3 linked regions of the Homo sapiens genome follow. The protein of the gene in region 2 interacts with the protein of the main gene of each other region in a pairwise test. Each region holds a gene or a part of one and is shown on either strand. Other genes may lie near its edges.

The links.
Region 1: the proteins of WHR1 (region 2) and SP3 interact in a two-hybrid assay, tested with the Homo sapiens proteins (one study listed by BioGRID and IntAct).
Region 3: the proteins of WHR1 (region 2) and MAB21L3 interact in a two-hybrid assay, tested with the Homo sapiens proteins (one large-scale study listed by BioGRID).

What each region holds. Positions count from the first base shown.
Region 1 is NC_000002.12:173,962,574-173,966,589, forward strand, and holds the start of SP3 (transcription factor Sp3), read right to left. Parts: upstream 2,801-4,016; 5' UTR 2,599-2,800; coding exon 2,592-2,598; intron 1,981-2,591; coding exon 1,832-1,980; intron 1,311-1,831; coding exon 1,188-1,310; intron 1-1,187. UniProt on the Homo sapiens protein: Transcriptional factor that can act as an activator or repressor depending on isoform and/or post-translational modifications. Binds to GT and GC boxes promoter elements. Competes with SP1 for the GC-box promoters.
Region 2 is NC_000006.12:31,978,446-31,981,958, reverse strand, and holds the end of WHR1 (winged helix repair factor 1), read right to left. Parts: intron 3,057-3,513; coding exon 2,961-3,056; coding exon of another isoform or gene 2,949-2,960; intron 2,546-2,948; coding exon 2,406-2,545; intron 1,509-2,405; coding exon 1,411-1,508; intron 1,306-1,410; coding exon 1,158-1,305; intron 956-1,157; coding exon 910-955; 3' UTR 513-909; downstream 1-512. UniProt on the Homo sapiens protein: DNA-binding protein which is required for efficient transcription-coupled nucleotide excision repair (TC-NER). Acts as part of a TC-NER complex which assembles and interacts with RNA polymerase II (RNAPII) when it stalls at DNA lesions.
Region 3 is NC_000001.11:116,114,385-116,118,105, reverse strand, and holds part of MAB21L3 (protein mab-21-like 3), read right to left. Parts: intron 1-3,721.

The sequences.
Region 1 (4,016 bases), on a different chromosome or scaffold from region 2:
TATTCACATCCCCTATAACGAAGCACTAAAATTACAAATTATTTACCAGTAATAGCTTAACATTGGTTTAACTTAAAAAAAAAAAATACCTGGACATACTAAGCATTTGTTGTAGACTATACCAAATACCAAACTTCTGTCTTCAGTGACTATTGAAAGTATCACTCCACAAATCAATTCCTATGATCCACCACACACACACACTCAAATGAGGGTTTTCATTATTTTAATAGGTGAACAAATCTACACAACAGTGATGACCCAAATGTAAAATTCACAATTAACAGTCTAAAAACTGTTCCTATCCTATTGGTATTAACCCCTCATATAACACAGGCGAGCTCCTCCCCTTGCCCAGACACTGAAAACACTACAGAAAGAATCCCACCATATCTTACCTGACTAGCAGTCGTAATAAAATGAAAACATACTTTTGCCAACCAAATTCAGCTATAAGTATTGTACTACTAGTATGCACGTAAATACAATTCCTTACACATACTTTTCTAACACTGTTATATTCAGTTTCAAAATCTAAAGTACTATCTAAGCAACTTGCTGATTTCAAAGGCTGCTAAATGTTTCATTTACCCCCCTTACAAAAAAAAAGTCACTGCAAATTTTAGTAGTCTGCAAAAACTAAAATTCAACGATTTTGAATGGTCAACTAAAAAAGCAGTCTTCACTCCTGCATACAAAAGGGTAATTCAAAGAATAAACCCTCATTTTTTTTAATAATGTATGATTTAAAGCAGTAAGATCCTGTAACGTCCAACAGAAAATGCTCCAGGTTCAAAAATAATAAAAACTAAAGACATTGCCTCTAGTTGATACTATCTATGGCCGATAGGCTGTGCTTGAAAATTTTGTAGTGTTAAGCGAAGGAGTTTTCAGCACTGATATGAATTGCTCAAACATCCATTTTGGAGTCCTCTACCCCCGCCCTCTCAGACTTCATTTTGTGAAGATTTTGCGCGAGGTGCTGCAGTGACAATTTCGAGAAAGCCTGGGCTGGCTTCAGATCCAAACCGGGATGCGAAAGAGCAGGAAAGGGCGCCCTGGAGCCCAGCGGCCCGTGCGGGTCGGGGGAAGCGCGGGCGCCGGGGAGGCCTTTTGGGCAGGCGCGCCACGGGTCCGGGATGGCGGGCGCCCGGCCTCGGCGGGGGCGGGCCGCGCGCGGGACTTACCGCTCCGGCGGCGGCGGGGGCCCCGGCTGCGGCGGCCGCCTCCTCCTCGTCGTCGCCCGGCGATGGCGGCCCTATCTTGCTGCAGGTAGCGGCCAGCAGAGCGAGCGGTGACGGCTGAGTGTCCTACCCCCAATGGGCGGGTTCAGAGAGGGAGACAGGGGGAGGGGGTGGCGGTTAGGGTCGGGCCGCCTTTCGCACAGGAAGTACGACTCGGTCCCCGCCGACTGCGCCCGGGCAAGCGCCAGCCCGCGCTCTCCTCCTCCTCCTCCTCCTCCTCCTGGTCCCGCCGCCAGCCCACGCCTGGCGTCCCCCGCTCCAAGCACCCCGGCTCCCCGGTCCGCGGGCAGGCGGGCGGCGGGCTGCGCGCCGGGCCTCCGCCTTCCGCCCGGAACCCACCCCCGGGAGGGCACGCTGGGGCCCACACTCACACGCGCACAAAAAGGCGGCAGGCGGGCGAGGCGGGGCGGCGCGGGCGGGGTCGGAGCGTTGGCGCCTCGGGCGGGCAGCTCCCGGGGCGGGGGGAGGGGAGTGGAGGGGAGGGGAGAGACGAGGAGGGAGGGGTGAGGCGAGGAGGGAGGGGAGAGGCGAGGGGAGGAGAAAGCGGCGCGAGGGGGGAGCCGGGCCGGGGTTCAGCCGCTCCTCACCTGGGCCGCCGCTGCCGCCGCCACCGCACCGTTTCCGTGCTGTTGCTGCTGCTGCAGATACTCGCCGTGGCCGCCGCCGCCGCCACCGCCGCCGCCGCTATCCACGTCCAAGGCAGCCATTTCCTCTTGTTTCACGGGCTTTTCGGGAGCTGCAGGCACAGCGCGGGGGGGTGGGGGTGGGGAGGAAGGCGGGTGGCGGAGAGGGAGGGGGCCCGCGGGCCGAAGCGAAATTACTCCCAAAGCCCGGACCCAGGCCCCTTCCCCTCCCCCACCCGCCCCCCGGCGGCGGCGGCGGCGGCGGCTCCCTCCTCCCCTCCTGCTGCTGCCCCCGCCCGCCGCTGCCTGTAACCCTCCTCCTCCTCCTCTTTCCCTCCTCCTCCTCCTCCCCGCGCTGCCCCTGCCCCCTCTCCTCTCCTCCCCTTTCCCTTCGCGCCGCTCGCTCTCACTCGCGCTCGCTCCTCTCGCACCGTCAGTCACTCACACACGCCCGCCCGCGCCCGCACACAGGGGGATGCGCTCCCGGCGGACCGGGCCGCCCGCCCCGGGGCCTGGCGGGGAGACGGCGTTGCTGGGGCTTCGGGGGTGGACGGTGGCTGGCGGGGAGGGGAGGGAGGCGCAGGGGAGTGCAGCTTTCTGCCTCTCACAGACACTCGGTCGCACACACGGGGCCGAGACCGGCGGCAGCGGCCCCGGGCTGGCTGTGGTCGGCGGCAGCGGCGGCGGCGGCAGCAGCAAGGGTTGCTCTCTCGGCTTTACGTACCGGTCATAGTGTGTTTAGGGCACCTCAGGCGGGGCTCCCCGCCGCCTTACACATGGTGAGGAGCGAAGGCGGCGGCGGCGGGAGAGGATGCGGGAAGCGGCGGCGGACACGGCCGGAGCGGTCCGGGGATTTTTTTTTCCTATTTTGATTGACTGTGCGGGAAACACAAAAGGTGGAGCCTCCAGCCCAAAAGGGGGGAAGAGGGTGACAGCCCGCCCGGAACTCCCGCCCCTCTTCTTGGCTCTCATTCGCCGCCGTGCTCTTTGTCGGCTGTGCTCATTGGTCCAGGCGCCTGTCCGTCGGTCTGCCAGGCGGCGCGCTTCCTGTTTGCCCCCGGGTGGAAGGGGAGAGACAATGAGCGGCCGTGGCAGCGTAGGTTTTCGAGAGCGGCTACGGCTCGCCGGTTACCCCGCTGTGCCCGCCTCCCTCGCCGGCTGCCGCTGCCAGGCCCGAGGCGCAGGCCTCCTCCACCTTGCAGGCGCTCGGAGCAGGCCTAGCCAAGCTGTAGGGGAGCTGAGCTGGGGAGGAAATTCGTCCCCGGTGACTCCTGCTCCACTGGACGCTTCCTCCATCCCGGCAGCAGTCTTGGCCGGATCTCCCCAGGGCCTCGCGCTCTTGGAGCCGCCGCTTCCCTGCGCTGCCAGGAGGCCACCGCTGCTCAGCCCCGGGGCTGCTGCTGCGGCCGCTGCCGCTACTGAGCAAACCAGACCCGCCCCACGAGCCCGGGGGGAGGGAGCTGGTATTAGGGGAGACACCCCCTCCGAGGCTGGAGGAGGATTTTTCTCTCTCACATCCAGCTTCCTGATTCAGTCACAGCCATCTCGCTCCCAGCCCCCTTAGCCCCAGTTTTCCAACCGGTCTCCCACTTTCACGTACCCTGAAGGCAGGCATTTAAAGCAAAAAAGAAATCTCAAGTCACCTCACATACGGAAGGAGAGTTTTAATTTTGGCCAGTGGCACCAAAACGGGCACTTAAAAGTATATTTCATTTTACTTGTGGTATGTGTATGTATTCAGTGGGGCAGAATTCTGTGTTTTAAAAAATCGGTCACATAACCATTTTGCTGCACAAACGTATTATTCCCGGCCTCTTTATCCTCTTGGTACCAAGTCAGATATCTCCTGAAATAAGCCCATCAACCACTGCCAACGTTTTTTAAAGTCGTGAACCGGTGAACTACCTTTTTTCCCCCATTGGAACATTTTTGTTGTATTTTAAAATCTTGTTTCTCTTACTGGATTAGGTTAACACTCCTTCCTTCTTTGGCATCCTTGGTATCTTGCTGTCATCCTGGGGGAAAATGCTCAGGTTTTAAGTGTGTGTTTTGCCAACTAAGAGACATCTCTCCCTGTTACCTTCAAGTATAGTTGCCAAGAAAGAAGTTAAATTCAAGAGGTGGAAACACTGTCCACAATACCTGTTTT
Region 2 (3,513 bases):
GCCTCAGGCCCAGAGTTGTGGGGGCACCCCGGACACCTGGGTGTCCATGGGAAACTCTGAATCTTGGCCCAGAAATAACCCTGTCCTTCCCCGTTAACTCCTCTCATTCCAGTGCCTGAGCACCTCCCCCTACCAGGTATATCTGTATCAGGGTATAGGTGCACACAAGCTCATGTATACCTGGGCGTACAAGGGCCCAACATGGCCCACGAGTACAGGATATTTAAAGGCCCTCACAAAACAATGACAGGCTTCTAAGACACTTGTCTCTTACTTTCATTCCAACACAAATTGAACTATACTAGGCTTTTGCTTTTTTAGGCCCTAACAGAAATTCCGTGGTTTAGGAGATTAGGTACACCCTCACCACTCCACAGGGAGAATGGCCTGAACGTCAGAGTGAACCCCTGACCCCTTTCCTCTCTGAATGAGGCAAAGCTCAGACTTCACCTCTACCCCTAAACAAGGCACCCAAACACACGTCACAGTAAATAAAGGACATCCAGAAAATATCACAGGCAGAGGTACTTTATTTGGCAATTTTAACATGACACGTAGAGAAAAGAACCCTGCCCTCCTTCACCAGCCTCCCCAGAAATCCCACCTTCCTATTTCAAGACAGAGTAATAACAGCACCATTTTACACGAAAGGGAACAGCCACAGCCTTGGCACCATTTCTGGTTCCACTTTCCATGGAAGGGCAGAGAAGCATTGCTCAAACCCCACCACTGGGTCAGAAACCAGGCAAACAGCAGCAGTCACATCTGACCTTTTGCACACACGAGAGCCCGACACTCATCCTGGCTCCCAAGCCTTCCCAAGGTGACCCTGTCTCAGCCACCATCATGCAGCTCTTCTAGTCCCCTCCCGGCCCACTCTGAGGAGCTGAGCAATGATGAGCAGAATCTTCATGTCTCTGGCAGGCGGAGGAGGGTTCCTGAAGTGGTAGAGATGCTGTGCAGGAGAAAGACAAGGCTGGAGCCAGACGCCTAGGCTCAAGCTGTGAGGAGAACTTAGAACTTGGGAAGGGGTGCTCCCGGGTTCCAGAGAAGAATGAGAGCCACTGGCCTTCACTAGGAAACTAAGCATGAGCTGGGAGGAAATCCCACTTTGGGTCATTGCTCCATAATCTGCCAGAGGCCAGGGAAAGACTCACCAGTCCACTAGCTGGGCCCCAATGAGGTCGTGCACATGGTAGGTGAGGCCAAGCCGCACCACGACAGGCGCCCGCCGGCCCAGGAGCTCTGATAGGAGCAGTTCCCGGTACTTTGCCTTCCGGACCATGCTAAGGACAGCCTGGCGCCCTAGAGGAGAAGTGGCACAGGAAAGGGGAAAGGTGAATAAGGCCTAGAGGCCTGAGGAGCCACCAAAAGGTGAGGGGCTGCAGGCTTGAGCTGCAGATGGGATACCTTTAACAAAGTACTTGATGAATCTCCCAGCTCCAGGCACAGCTAGCCACCAGCTCCCAGCATCTCGGACGGTGAGGACTCCAGCATTCACCAGATGCCTGAGGGCAGTGGGAAGCCAGCAGAGATGAGGGCTGGGCTCTGAGAACCATCTCTCCTCCTCATCCATTAATGTTTACACAAGTCTCCAGAAACACGGGCAACCATGCAAGAGAGACTGGATAACAAAATCCCAGCCTGGGGTGGTTCTGTGCTCGCACCAACTGCCTCTGTTGGTGCAGTTGCTTGTTCCAGGCCCCCTACCTGGACTGCCCTCCCTCCACTTTTTCTTTTCCTGCTACTATTACTGGTTCAGTTAAATAGCTTCTCTTCCCTGACCACATGTCCTGACACACATTCGGTCTTAGGACCGAGGAGAGGAATCAGAGTCTTCTGCGCTCCTGCCACTGCCTAGGCAGACTGCGCCATGGCTCCCACCACATCTCTCTGAGAGTGTGTCTGCCCATGTGAGATCAGTGCTATAGTTTTTCAAATGCTTTCACATATTCCATGGGTTACAAAGTAGGAGGCCTGAGCCAGATACAGCCTCTCAAAATTAGATTTTTATTTAGCTCCTGCCCAGTTGTTTTTTAGCTTTGGGTTTTTTTTGTTTTAATGTGAATGTTTAGGGGTATCCCAGCTCCTACCATTCTCTATCCTCTTAGTCCCAGTATGATTAACATCAAGCTTTTACACTTCCTGCCAGGCCCCTGTGTGCTTTTGATAAGCCACCAAGAACTGAATTCTATTTCAGGGCTCTTTCTAAGGCCCAGGTAAGATAGGCCTCCTCTCTTGTGGGGAGGAATACAAACTTGGGTCATTTTATTAACAAGAAGAGTCAGCTTTTTGGCAGCTTTTCTGGCAGGTTCACCAAAAAAACAGGAGGACAGGCTGGATGGAACTGGAGGGAGGCAGGGAAGCACCAGATGCCTGACTTTGGTTGGTTCCACAAGTCTCACGTGATTTCTGAGTCCCTGAAGCCAAAGGTCTGTGTCATTTGGTCCTGCTGGAAACTAAGGTCCCCACAGGCTGGAAGTACTGAAGCTAGAAATTTCTGCACTGCCCCAGCATACGGTCGGCCATCACAGGCCTTGAGGACCTACAAGCAGAGATGAGAGACATGGTCCATCCCCACCCTCACTCTCTACCAACCTCCACCCCCAGGACAGCATTTCTCTTCCTGTCTTACCTCTTGCTCAGATCCTTCCACCTCTCATACCCTTCTTCTTCCTCCTCCTCTTCATCCTCCTCCCCCTCTTCCTCCCCCCCTCCTCCTCCCCCTCCTTCCTTCCTCCTCCTCCCCCTCCTCTCCCCCCCTCTTTACCCTCTCACTCCTCCCTCTTTCCCTCCTGTCTCTCTCCCTCATATTACTATTTACCAGGGCCCTGTGCCCTCTCCATGGGATGTGGGGGCAGGGAAATTCTTTCTTTTGTTTTTATTTCTGTTTCCCAAGTTCCCTGTCTCCCCCAACCTGTGCCCTCCCCCCAGCACCCCTGACGCACACAGTCACATACTCTGGTCCTGTAGTCCTCAGTGAAGATAATTCCATGGGCATCCAAGTCGAAGCCCAGCTGGACGATTCTGATCTCCCCCTGCTCTTGAAGCTCCTTCTGTCTCCACAGAGAAGAGAGTGAAAAGAGGCGTATCAGGGTAAGATGCTCTGCTATACTCTGGGCGCTCTCAGGCAGGGAGATTTTGTTTGCCAATATGGGGGCATTTTCTCTTAGTAAAGGAAAAACTGTGTGAGAAAATAATCAAGCAAATGACCAAGCAGCCTTTTCCAACTAGCTACCCACATTCTCATCCACCTGCCTTATATATGGTCTATCAAAGAGTCAATATAATTTCTAAGACCAGGCACTAAGATAAAATAGTGATTAAGATGCAGGCTGTGGCTTCAAAACATTAACAGTCTAAATTCTGGGTAGGGTAAGGTGGGGAGGAGTATGGGATTCAATGTTTAAAACAAATAAAAATAAACCAGGACTTCTGTTTACGAGAATACAGCAAGAACTAATCCACCTGTTGAAAATTAACTAAAATCCTGGATAAAAATGTTATTTTAAA
Region 3 (3,721 bases), on a different chromosome or scaffold from region 2:
GGCCCCAAGAACTTTTACCATGGGGAAAACCAAAACAACAGGGATGCGAACAGTTTTTTTTTTCCTTGCAAAATGACACACAGGTGTAAACATGTTTAAATGCTGAGAGAAAAGAGTCAGTGGTGAAAGAAGAGGTAGCAGAGAGCAAAACCAGTTTGTAAGGATTTCCCACCCAAAAGGAGTCATGCACATCCAGAGGCCTGAGTGAGGAATTCATCTTGGTGTGGCAGAAAGAAAGAAGGGGAAAAGGGTGCATGCAGATACAGATAAAAGGGTAGGGGGCAGTGAAAATCAGAGAGATTTCCAGTCTGACGTCTATGTTCTTTATAGAGTGGGAGATGTTAATGAGCTAAGAGTGAAGTGGAAGGCAAGAGATTTCAGGCGATAGACTGCTGAGATAGCTGCTATAAGGAATGAGAGACTGTTTAGGTGCATGAGTAAAGATAACCAGACAGTGTCAAGACTTGGCTGAGGCTGAGTCCCTGAGGCTGTGGGATATCAGTAAGTTCAGTTAGTGAGATCTGCTCCACCACCTCTTAGCCCTCCAAAGGTAAGAGTTGAGGTGCTAAGATTGGAGTTTGCTGGGCAAGAGATGGATAAAGATAAAAAAGCAACAGAGGGTTTCAGCAGTGGGCTATATCTTCCAGCCGGAATAAAGAACGGATAAAGCTAGTGGTAGAATAGGGAACATTAGGCCACTTCAGGGACCTGAAGTCTGAGCAGGTACAGTGGAGAAAAGTAATAAAAGTGTTAATTAGATAGAACATTGCAGGCAGAGTGGTTGAGAAATAGTATTCTCTAATAGTTAAGTTCTCAGAACGTGTTGAAGGCCAAGACTAGCCTCCTGAATCTGCCAGCCCCACGGATGTAATTCCATAGAACTTGAATGTTAGTAACATAGCAGTGACTATACATATATATATATATATATATATATATATATGTATGTATATTTTGATTCCTGAGTTAATAAACTAATGAAAAATTCATCACCATCAAATCATTTTTAAATAGAAGCTTAAGAGTGTGTGTGCATGTGTGTATGTATGTACATGTGTGTATGTATGCACATAACACACGTGAAGAGTAGCCTATTGGAAAAAGTACTTCATTGTAAATCTATTCTACAAATTGTGCCCTCATTTGATGGTGAAATTCTTACCGAGCAGGACAAGATCACGCACTCCTGGAAAACAACTATAATCTCTCACTTGTTACACAGGTTATTAGTTCACCCTTATGACCTGTTTTGATTACCAAAGGTGAAAGTCAGAATAAGATAATGCTTTTTGAGACCTAGAACCACAAATTCCAGTTTTAATTTTCTTCCTCCATCACTTCTGCTGCAACTTAGATTCAGGATCTTAGAAATGGAAGAGACCTCAGAAATTGCCTCGTCTGGTGTGACTTTATGGAGGACCAGAGTGACAAGGCAGCTTTCCTAACATCACACCGGCAGTTAGATGTAGAATTAGACAGGCTCTCCAACACTTCTTTCCATCACACTTTGCCACACCCTTAAGTACTGATGTACCAGAAGTACGGCCTACCCTTTATCCTCTTCCTGAACCTAAAAATGCCTTCAATTTAAAGTCAAGACTCATGAAATAAGGAGTCCTAGGTCTCCATGTATTTAGGCATCAGCAACTGTTCTGGCATCTAACAAGCACAAAGGGTCATGCAGCAAGGGCCAGACAGTGATGCTCCTGCTGTGGGACCTGAGCAGAAGCCTCTTTCTCTAGGTGGCGGGCAGCCTTGTCCCTCCCCACATCTCTGGCTACACTTCCTGCAATAAGTTCTTACCCACACAGCATCACCGTGCTATTTGGTAGCCCCAGAAGTGATTTGTGCTGGGGGTTTCCAGGCTTAGTGCCAGACACCTCTTGTCACCCTCATGGTGTGACAACACAGAACCCCCAGACTGTTTCTCTCCACTTATTCTGGCCACACCCTAGACAGATACAGCAAGAAGTTCATTTCAGGGTGTGGAAAAGCAGGCAGTGGGGTTGGGGCAGCTGTACAGTGATCTAAAGAAGGAGGCTCTAACACAAGTAGACACCCATTGCAAGCCCAACCCTGGAAATCCTTTACTGCCTCTCAAACTTTAGGAAGCCAGCAAGATACCAGTTGCAGCTTCAAGGCAGCCTTGAGGCAACCTTGTCACCAAACTTAGTTCATGGCAAAACATGGAAACAAATGTTGTTTGGGCCTTGCTCTTCCCAGGCATGTCTCCATGCTGTCAAGGTCCTTGTCCCATCTTGGGCTGCTTTCCCCTCCTCCTCCTTAACCACAGCATCAGGTTCATTGTTGCCCCACAAGTCATTTGCTGCTATTAATAGCTCAAGTTCATGAATAATTTACTGCTTCAAATATAAATTATGGGGATTTAAGGTTATCCCCTATAATAATATCACTCTGACTCACTTGCATTCCGATACGCTTCCTTGCAATGGAGACAGAGTGGTGGTGCTAAGTAGCATGCCAGGAATGTCACACAGGCCTGATCACACCCATGACCATGCAGACTATGTGTATGTCATTCCCAATGAGTGTTACTGAGAAGAAAAGGCTGAGGACTTCCTTCCAGAAAACAAGAAGTCAGACCTTTAATTCCAGAATTGCATGAAATCCAATCATCAGTTAGAAAAATTTCAACAAAACAAAAACTGGCATCATCTCTGTCTTTCAGGGGCTAATAATGTAAAGAAATGGAAAGTTAAATCCAGTGATAGATACGCACGAGACCATAGGCTTTCCACCATCATATCCCTTCCTTTGTAGACTAATTCTTCCATGAATCAAATGCTTGGGTCACGCAGAATATTTGCAGCCCCCAAATGTAGCAGAAGCTGTAGCAGCAGCATTACCGTGAAACTAAGATTATTTAGTCCTTCCTGTGTGCAAGGCATTTTATAAGAGTAGGCTCATTCCTGCCTACCCATCATTCTTTAAGGTGGATGCTATGATTATCCCCATTTTATAGATGAGGAAACCAAAGTTCAGAATATTTAAGTAATTTGCCCAGGTTCCCAAAGTTAGTAAGTTACAGAACACAGGTAGCAGCCTTCCAAAGCCCATATTTGTAACCACTGCCCTGTTCTGCTCCCCAAAAGAAAAAGGTGACTGGGAATGAAATACACCTTGAATGTTTGAACGGGGTTCCCTTAGCCTGGAAGACCTTTCCTATACTTCTCCACTTATTAAAACCCTACACTTCCTCCAAGGCTTTGTCTCTACTCTTCTTTCTGTAAGACACCTTTCCCATCACAACTAATGCACCGTGCTCCTCCAGCAATCTGTTGAAATCTCTACTGCATCCCTTACGGTCTACCATGCATTCTATTAAGCACTTGCCTGACTGCATGTGAAATTCCCTCCTTCTTCCTTTGGGGTTATGTACAAAATCTGCAGATGGGACAGGGCTATCCTAGAGACCAAAACCAAAATTTCTCTTTCATTTAGCAGGCCACATCTCAGGCCTTGGTCTACCCTCAAACCGTAGCACAGTATTTTGCACAAAGCAGGTGCTTAGTATGTGTTTGCAGAGATATAGAGGAGTTTGGCAGAGGACGTTCGGCCTTTGGAGTAAAGAAGACAAGGCTGAAACTTCAGTACCCTCTCAATTTAGCTGTGTAACTTTGGACAAGTTATTTAATCTCCACAAGCCTCTGTTTCCTCCTCTAAAAATGGAGGCAATATGTACATCACATAGTTGTTGATT